3 separate regions of the Homo sapiens genome follow, and regions 2 and 3 are each linked to region 1. Evidence: fine-mapped expression QTL. A gene starts in region 1. Each other region holds a variant in brackets. All regions are shown on one strand. Distances are between the middles of the regions. Region 1 holds the start of C1orf220 (chromosome 1 putative open reading frame 220). Region 2 has its middle 60 kb from the start of C1orf220. Region 3 overlaps LOC105371632 (a long non-coding RNA gene).

Region 1 (2,761 bases):
TTTTCTAATGTTTTTCCCAAAAAGAAAGAACATCTACTCCTCTAATTCCACAAGAGATATAAAGAATTAAAGAAATTGTGATTAACAGCCCTGTGTCTGGAGCTCATGAAGCTCAGAGGATTGGGAATGGAAGTGGCAGGTTTAGGCTTGAATCAGAACTTCTGGATTTAGGAAAACAAAACAGGCCAGGCGCGGTGGCTCACACCTGTAATCCCAGCACTCTGGGAGGCCAAGGCGGGCAGATCAGGAGCTTGAGACCAGCCTGCCCAACGTGAGAAACCCTGTCTCTACTAAGAATAAAAAATTTAGCCAGGCATGGTGGTGGCACGCCTGTTAATCCCCGCTACTTGGGAGATTGAGGCAGGAGAATCGCTTGAACCTGGGAAGCAGAGGTTGCAGTGAGTCGAGATGGCGCCACTGCACTCCAGCCTGGGCCACAGAGCGAGACTCCGTCTCAAACAAACAAACGACAACAACAAAATGCAAACTCTGGCCAGGCGCGGTGGCTCATGCCTGTAATCCCAGCACGTTGGGAGGCCAAGGTGGGCGTATCACTTGAGGTCAGGAGTTCAAGACCAGCCTGGCGAACATGGTGAAACCCCATCTCTACTAAAAATACAAAAATTAGCCAGGTGTGGTGTCATGCACCTGTAGTCCCAGCTACTCAGAAGGCTGAGGCAGGATAATCGCTTGAACCTGGAAGACAGGTTGCGGTGAGCACAGATCGCGCCACTGCACCCCAACCTGAGCGACAGAACAAGACTTCATAAAAAAAAAAAAAACCCCACGCAGATTGCAGATTCCTGGGCCCCATCTTCGCCTTTCTGAATTGCAGCCTTTCACCCTTTAAGAATGAGAGGGTGAAATCTGCACGTCATACAAATAGCCCAGGGGCTATTAATCTGATGTTGCTCCCCAGCTCCCTCCAACACCGTCAGAGGGTGCACGGATTAGGCCTCTGCTGCGTGCAGAGAAGCATCCTAGGTGCTGCGTGGCTGTGCCAAAGCAGCAGAAACCGGTGGTGTGCCTTAAGATGCATGCTCCAAAGCTGTCCACAAGGCCTCTGGTACAGGCTTCCAGGTCTACGTCTCGGCTTCCCCGACAGTGTCCATGCGACACTGTCACCAGTTTCTCCTCTCACAAGCAGAAAATCAAATTCGGATTGGGCAAATGATTCCCTGCCCGGGTGTGGAATAAGGGTCAAGTCCTAAGTATGGAGAGAGAGCGCCGGCTCCCGCCAGGATATGCGAAGCTCTGGAGGGGAGGCCAAGCCACCAGGCACCCGGCGGGAGAAGAGGAGGCTGGAGAGCGCCGCCCAGTGCCTGCAGGCCGGGCGCTCCACGCCTCCCCTCCCTCCTGCACACCCCATTCCCCTCCGGTTGCCCCGCCTGGGAAGCCCCCTCCCCACACCTCCCGGCCCAGCATCTGCACGAGAGCCGCGAGCCCTGGCCCAGAGCTCTGGGTGGGCCTCTCACCCCAGACGGCGGCCGCAGCCCGTCCCTGATCACCGGCCGCCTGAGCCCTCCGTTCGCTCGGCGCGAGCGCCGCCACCCGTCCTTACCCCCATCCAGTCCGAGGCCAGCCCCGTAGGCTCCGAGCCTGCTCCGTGAAAAGCCTTTTCCCCAGGAGGAGAGTTACTGTAAAGCAAGAGGAAGCCGAGAAGAGGCGGTGGCTGCAGCGCGCGGGGCCCGGCGGGGGCGCGGGGGCGTCGGGGTACTGACTGGGCAGCGCGGTTTCCCCTCATCCCGGGACACGGTGCGGCGCTAGCGCCACCCAGCGGGCGCGGTGGGAATTGCGCTCCCTTCCTGCGCTGGGGCTCTGGACACACAGGCGACCAAGAATGACGCCTGCAGCCGGATAAACGCTCGGGGCAAGGCCGCTATCATCCCTCTGCCGGGAGTGAGTCAAGTCTCAGCAAAAGAAGAAGCCACTTTGGCCAAAATTCCAAGAGTGCTGATGAAGACGGTGACATCTGACATTTCAATGGCACTTTCCATTTCCCCCGGGGTGCGCATTCCGGGCCAGTGGAGCGCTGCGTCGCCTGTGCAGGACCTGGAGGTCTGCAGGACTGTGACCAGTCGGAGTCTCGGAGTCGTGGGTTAAACATTAGTCGGGAGCACTCGTTCATTCCCTGAGCTCCCCTTGCCCTTCACCCTTCGGTCCCGGAAGCCGGAAGGGAGACTGCCCCGCCCCTTGCCTGCCGCCCAGTGGCTCTCCCGGGGCCCTCTTGGCCCCTCTCTCCCAGCCCTCCATACAGTGAAGGGTTGTTTCCGCTGGTGACTTCCACCTGTGGGAGCAGAGAAAGGAAGCGGGGCAGAGGAGAAGGGGAAGGTGTCAGGCGATTCCCCTCCTTGCGCTGCAAGCCGGGTGGGAATAGAACACCTGCAGCCCTCCCCGGCGCCCTGCGAATGAGGTGGGAGTGGGAACGCCATCAGGGCAGAGCCCCTCCAGCTGGCTGGGGTCTGCACCTCCTCGCCAGCCCGGCCACCTCAAAACGGTGCTTGCCTCCCTGCGGGGGTGTAGAAGCCTCTTGGAGCAGCACTTGTAGAAAATCAAGTCCCTGGAAAGAAGCAAAATTAATCCGTTTGTTTCTCTATTTATTTTTGCTTCCCCACACCAGGTATTCACTTCATCCAAGGCTGCCCAATGTCACCTTCCACCCAGAGGAATCTCCCCTCTCCACCCCAGGCCAACAGCCTCTGCCTTCAGCTGTGGCCTCCACTCTGGCATTACTCTGGGCAGAGGGCTCAGGAGGGCTCAA
Region 2 (2,761 bases), 60 kb before region 1:
GCAAGAACTCAAAGAGAAAGCGGGGACAGATGAGATTGATGGTGCCATACAACCCTCCTTTCAAAGCTGAGTATTTAACATTGTTGAAAAATCAGCATTCATCCCTTTTATTTTATAACTGGTAAAGACCTTTATAATCCTTCAGTGGCCGAGAGGACCTACTGGGCCAGTCTGCTCTGTGACTCTCCCTCATATCTAATGAAATGGGCAAGGCACTCCCAGAGGCAGGCCCTGGGCCCTTGGGTCAGGGATCTACCCCTGCTTTTGAACTTCTTTTGGCCTCCTTCAGTGCTCTGCCCCTTATAGCCGGGCTTCAGGGTATAGTCCATGTCCATGTGGTTGCTTATACCTCAAAGCTACTTCTGGATAGCCTGAGCCAATCTCGTGCTACTCAAGAAGTAAAGGAGAAGAATTTCCAACTATATACCTGGCTTTGTGAATAGTCTATGGGAGCTACTTATTGGGAGCCTCCACAGAAAAACCTGTTTCCCACTGTTACATATGCTCACTTTTCATCCATTCAGATGCAGAGGCTAAAATGTAAAACCTAATATAAATTCAAAAAGGAGGTACATAAGCATTTCTGTATCTATCACTTGCAATGCTCTTTTTACCTGGACAAATCAAGAGCGAACCTGTTCTTATTTGAGGTCACAGGAACGGCACGTCTTTTGTGACATTTCAGGCTCAGCTTACGGAGAGTTTCTTAGTGGTGAACCAGGATGTTTTGGTGATAACTTGCAAAAGGGATGAGTGAAGTAACTACAATGAAGACTGATGATCTAGATTCAGGATTCCATTCCCTTCTTGTTCCTATATGGTTGAACATTGGGAGACACTCCCAGGATCTCCATTTGTTTCTCCATAACTTTAAAAGCAACCAAAATTTTTAACTAGCTCTATGCACCATGCTAAATGCTTTATATAGATATATGTGTGGAATTTAGTCCTCAAAACAATTTTGTGAGATAGGTGTGGGTAACCCCATTTTACAGATGAGGACTCTTTGAGTCCCTGAGAGGTTAAGTAACTTGCCCGAAGTCTGAGTGCTGGTGAGTGGTGGATCTAAGATTCTAAACCAGCTCATCTGATGCCAGGTCCACATACTTTATGCATTTTACCTTCTGGGAAAGAACTAATGCCTCTTTTCGTAAGGTTTGAGAGAACAAATAAGAAAGTACATATAAAAAGCTTTGAGAGTTGGGAATCAAGGTATCTGTAAGCCTTAGATTCTTAAGTATGGTGAAAAGAAAATTGAAAGGGATCAGTTAAAATCTCACAAGATCAAAATGTATTGCTCAGGGATTCTCAAAATTAGGAATTGTAAGTAGAAACATGGATCTCAGCCTTTTTATCTATAGGTAAGAGGCTGAAAAGGCTCAGTTTTGCTGCAGATTCCAAATTGATGAATATGTGTGATGGCTTTCCAAGTGAGAAGAGCTCTCTGAGTCTTGAAAAAATGGTTTATGACCACAACTTATAGGAGGACTATTAGTGAAGGAAATATGGACTTCCAACTGTT[T/G]AAAACAGATTTTAAGAAAGAAACCATGACTGTTTTACAAAAGTCTTGTGTAATGGACAGAGATAGCCATGTTAGTTTCCATTTTCTGCAGAAAGGGGGCATCTCATTTAATTCAAATCAACCCAACAGTCCTCGGGGTTTGGAGACCTCTGTCATTCTCCAGATTTAGCCAGGCCAAAGTATAACATATACATGCCTTAGATGTCTTACAAAAGTCACGTCACTCCAGAGAAAATGTGAATACCTCACAGAAGCTCTGGGGACAGTCCACTGACTTCAATTATTTTGGAAAGAAAGTGAAAGCTCAGGAGTGGCCTTTGAGTTGTGACACCCCCCCTTGCATTGCAGGGACTGGCCTCAAATCAATCTAGGCTCTCTGGATAGGCTGGCTTCAGAGCATTTGGTTCTGAAGTGATCTAAACAAAGACATATTTTTTATGGCTATTCTAAAAAGATAGCTGTTGCTGGGCATGGTGGCTCATGCCTGTAATCCCAGCATTTTGGGAGGCTGAGGCGGGCAGATCACCTGAGGTCAGGAGTTCAAGACCAGCCTGGCCAACATGGTGAAACCCAGTCTCTACTAAAAATACAAAAATTAACCGGGTGTGGTGGTGGGTGCCTGTAATCCCAGCTACGCAGGAGGCTGAGGCAAGAGAATTGCTTGGACCCGGAAGGCAGAGGTTGCAGTGAGCTGAGATCGTGCCCCTGCACTTGAGCCTGGGCGACAAAGCAAGACTCCGTCTCAAAATAAATAGGTAGATAAACAGATAGCTAGCTAGCTATCTGGTCTACCCTGTCCTCTGATGTTAGATGCCACAGAAATAGAGAAAATGCAATGTCTTCTTTTCACAGTCTAACTCTGTTGGATAACATGATTTTCCTATTTGACTGTGTTTTTCATGTTGTTAACTCCATATGTAGAATATGTCAGAGCCATGAAGGTGTTTGGCTGAGAATCTTGGAGGCTGGGGTTGTAAACTGAATGTGTAGCCTCCTTCGATGGGAGGAGTATTCACAGAATCTGAGTGCTGAGTGTGGGAGATAATTTGAAGTAGGCAGCGTCTAAAATAGTTCCTGACAACCCAGTGCAATGACTCACACTTTGGGAGGCTGAGGCAGGAGTTTGACACCAGCCTCAGCAACATCATCAGACCCCGTCTAGACAAAATAAAATAAAATAAATTAGCCTTTAGTGGCACATGCCTGTATCCTAGCTAGACAGAGGCAGGAGGATTGCTT
Region 3 (2,761 bases), 28 kb before region 1:
CTTGGATGTCCTTGGGTAAATTACCGAACTTCTCTAAACCTCAGTTTCTTCACCTGTAAAATGAAGGCGGCAGAGATAGCTAGTTTCCCTCATTCCTTGGTTAAAAAAAAAACCCTTCATTTTTAGTTGTACACATGGTCTCCTAAATAAAGGCCACATTTTTCAACCTTTCTGAAAAACAGAAAGACAACACCAAGGCAGAGTTGCTGACTGCCTGGCTTAGTGTTGAAGGCACGCCCCGACACTCACACGAAGCCCTTGGCAAAGACTGGGAGACTTACTGGCTCCAGTTGTTTAAGAAAAATCTCTGTTCATCATCAGCTGACCATTAAACTAACTGAGCAGGGACTTCAGTGGCCTCACCTGACAAAGAAAACAGAGTTCAGAAGAGTCAATAAACAAACGAACTAAAACAACAGCACCATCAAAACAAACCTGGGGAGGGTGGAGAATCTGATTTCCAGAGTTGCCACATTATATTATTTAAAATGTCTAGTTTGGGCCAGGCGTGATGGCTCATGCCTGTAATCCTAGCACTTTGGGAGGCAGAGGCTCACTGCAGCCTCTGTGTTTTGGGTTCAAGCAATTCTTGTGCCTCAGCTTCTGAGCAGATGGGATTATAAGCGCCCGCCACCGTGCCCAGCTAATTTTTGTATGTTTAGTAGAGACAGGGTTTCACCATGTTGGCCAGGCTGGTCTCACTCCTGACCTCAGGTGATCCTCCTGCCTTGGCCTCCCAAAGTGCTGGGGATTACAGGCATGAGCCACTGTGCCTGGCCCAGTTATTTTAAATATATTCAAATATATATTTGAAAACCATGTCTAAAAAAACTGAAGGAAACCATCTCTAAAGAACTTGGCCAGGTGCAATGGCTCACGCCTGTAATCCCAGCACTTTCAGAGGCTGAGGCGGGTGGATTACTTGAGGTCAGGAGTTCAAGACCAGCCTGGCCAACATGGTGAAACCCCGTCTCTACTAAAAATACAAAAATTGGCCAATCACGGTGGCTCGCACCTGTAATCCCAGTACTTTGGGAGGCTGAGGTGGGTGGATCACAAGGTCAGGAGTTCGAGACCAGCCTGGCCAATATGGTGAAACCCCATCTCTACTAAAAACACAAAAATTAGCTGGGCATGGTGGCAGGTGCCTGTAGTCCCAGCTACTCGGGAGGCTGAGGCAGAAGAATTGCTTGAACCCGGAGGTGAAGTTTTCAGTGAGCCGAGATCACACCATTGCACTCCAGCCTGGGCAACAAAGTAAGACTCCGCCTCAAAAAAAAAAAAAATATATATATATATATGTGT[G/A]TATATATATAAAAAATATATACAATATGATATAATATATACACATATATACATATATTATATATTGGCTAATTATATTATTAACATACTATATAAATATAATATATAAATAATTATATTAATATAATTTATATATTATATATATAGCCAGGTGCAGTGGTACATGCCTGTAGTCCCAGCTACTTGAGAGGCTGAGGCAGGAGAATCGCTTGAACCCAGGAGGTGGAGGTTGCAGTGAGTTGAGACTGCACTCCAACCTGGGCAACAGAGTGAGACCCCATCTCAAAAAAAAAAAAAGAACTAAAGCAGAGTGTGAGAATTATGTCTCAGCTGGGTATGGTGGCTCACATCTGTAATACCAGCACTTTGGGAGCTGGAGGTGGGAGGATTGCCAGCTCAGGAGTTTGAGACCAGCCTGGGCAACATGGCAAGACTACATCTCTATTACAAAAGAAAAAAAATAAAAATAAAGAGAAATGTCGCACCAGATAGAAAATATTAATAAAGAGATATAATTTGGCCGGGCACAGTGGCTCATGCCTGTAATCCCAGCACTTTGGGAGGCCAAGGCAGGCGGATCACAAGGTCAAGAGTTCGAGACCAGCCTTACCAACATGGTGAGACCCCGTCTCTACTAAAAAAATACAAAAATTTCCAGGTATGGTAGCACGCACCTGTAATCCCAGCTACTCGGGAGATTGAGGCAGGAGAATGCTTGAACCCGGGAGTTGGAGGTTGCAGTGAGCCAAGATCACACCACTGCACTCCAGCCTGGGTGACAGAGCGAGACTCCATCTCAAAAAAAAAAAAAAAAGGAGAGAGATATAATTTATTTTTAAAAATCAAATAGAAATTCTGGCATTAACATGAAAAATTCACAAGAGGAACACCAGGAAAGGTGTGAGCAGGAAGAAGAGAGAATTGGGAAACTTGAAGATAGGCCAATTGTGGTTATCCAATCTCAGAAAGAAAAAGAATGAAGGAAAATGAACAGAGCCTCAAAGACTTGTGTGGGACACCATCAAGTGTTAATAGGCATAACTGAAGTACCAGAAAGAAGCAAGAAAAAGAAAGGGGGAAAAAAAGTACTTGAAGACATAAGGGCTCAATACTTAACAGATTTGATTAAAAACATGAATTTACACATCCACGAAGCTCAACAAACTCCAAGTGGAATAAATTCAAAATATCCACACCTAGACACTTCAAAATCAAACTGTCAAAAGCCATAGACAAAGAATCTTAAAAACAGCAAAAAAAAGTAACTCATCATATACATAGGATCCTCAAGATTAACACTGAAACACTCCAATTAAAAGACAGATATTGGCAGAATGGATTTTAAAAATCATAGAACTATATGTTCTTTGTAAGGGACAAAATGTAGATTCAAAGACAGAAACAGTCTGAAAGCAAAAGAAGGGAAAAAGATACACCATATAAACAATAACCAAAA

What was found. PIP is the estimated chance that this variant, and not a neighbour inherited with it, causes the effect.
Region 2: its variant is fine-mapped to the expression of C1orf220 in whole blood (TOPMed, PIP above 0.99). The same link has a PIP of 0.9 or more in blood mononuclear cells.
Region 3: its variant is fine-mapped to the expression of C1orf220 in whole blood (INTERVAL, PIP 0.98).

The regions. Positions count from the first base shown.
Region 1 is chr1:178,541,686-178,544,446 of GRCh38, reverse strand. It overlaps C1orf220 (chromosome 1 putative open reading frame 220), which reads right to left and starts at 1,651. Exons shown (of 3, transcript NR_033186.1): 1 at 1,562-1,651. LOC124904460 (a long non-coding RNA gene) reads left to right here and starts at 1,802. Exons shown (of 2, transcript XR_007066748.1): 1 at 1,802-2,413; 2 at 2,621-2,761. RefSeq lists silencers at 1,417-1,486, 1,517-1,846 and an enhancer at 1,897-1,956.
Region 2 is chr1:178,601,331-178,604,091 of GRCh38, reverse strand. No RefSeq gene overlaps it. Among named protein-coding and RNA genes, the nearest start is that of C1orf220, 60 kb to the right of the region's middle. The variant T/G (reference allele first, on the strand shown) is at 1,523.
Region 3 is chr1:178,569,538-178,572,298 of GRCh38, reverse strand. The region is part of intron 1 of LOC105371632 (a long non-coding RNA gene); the gene reads left to right. Among named protein-coding and RNA genes, the nearest start is that of C1orf220, 28 kb to the right of the region's middle. The variant G/A (reference allele first, on the strand shown) is at 1,306.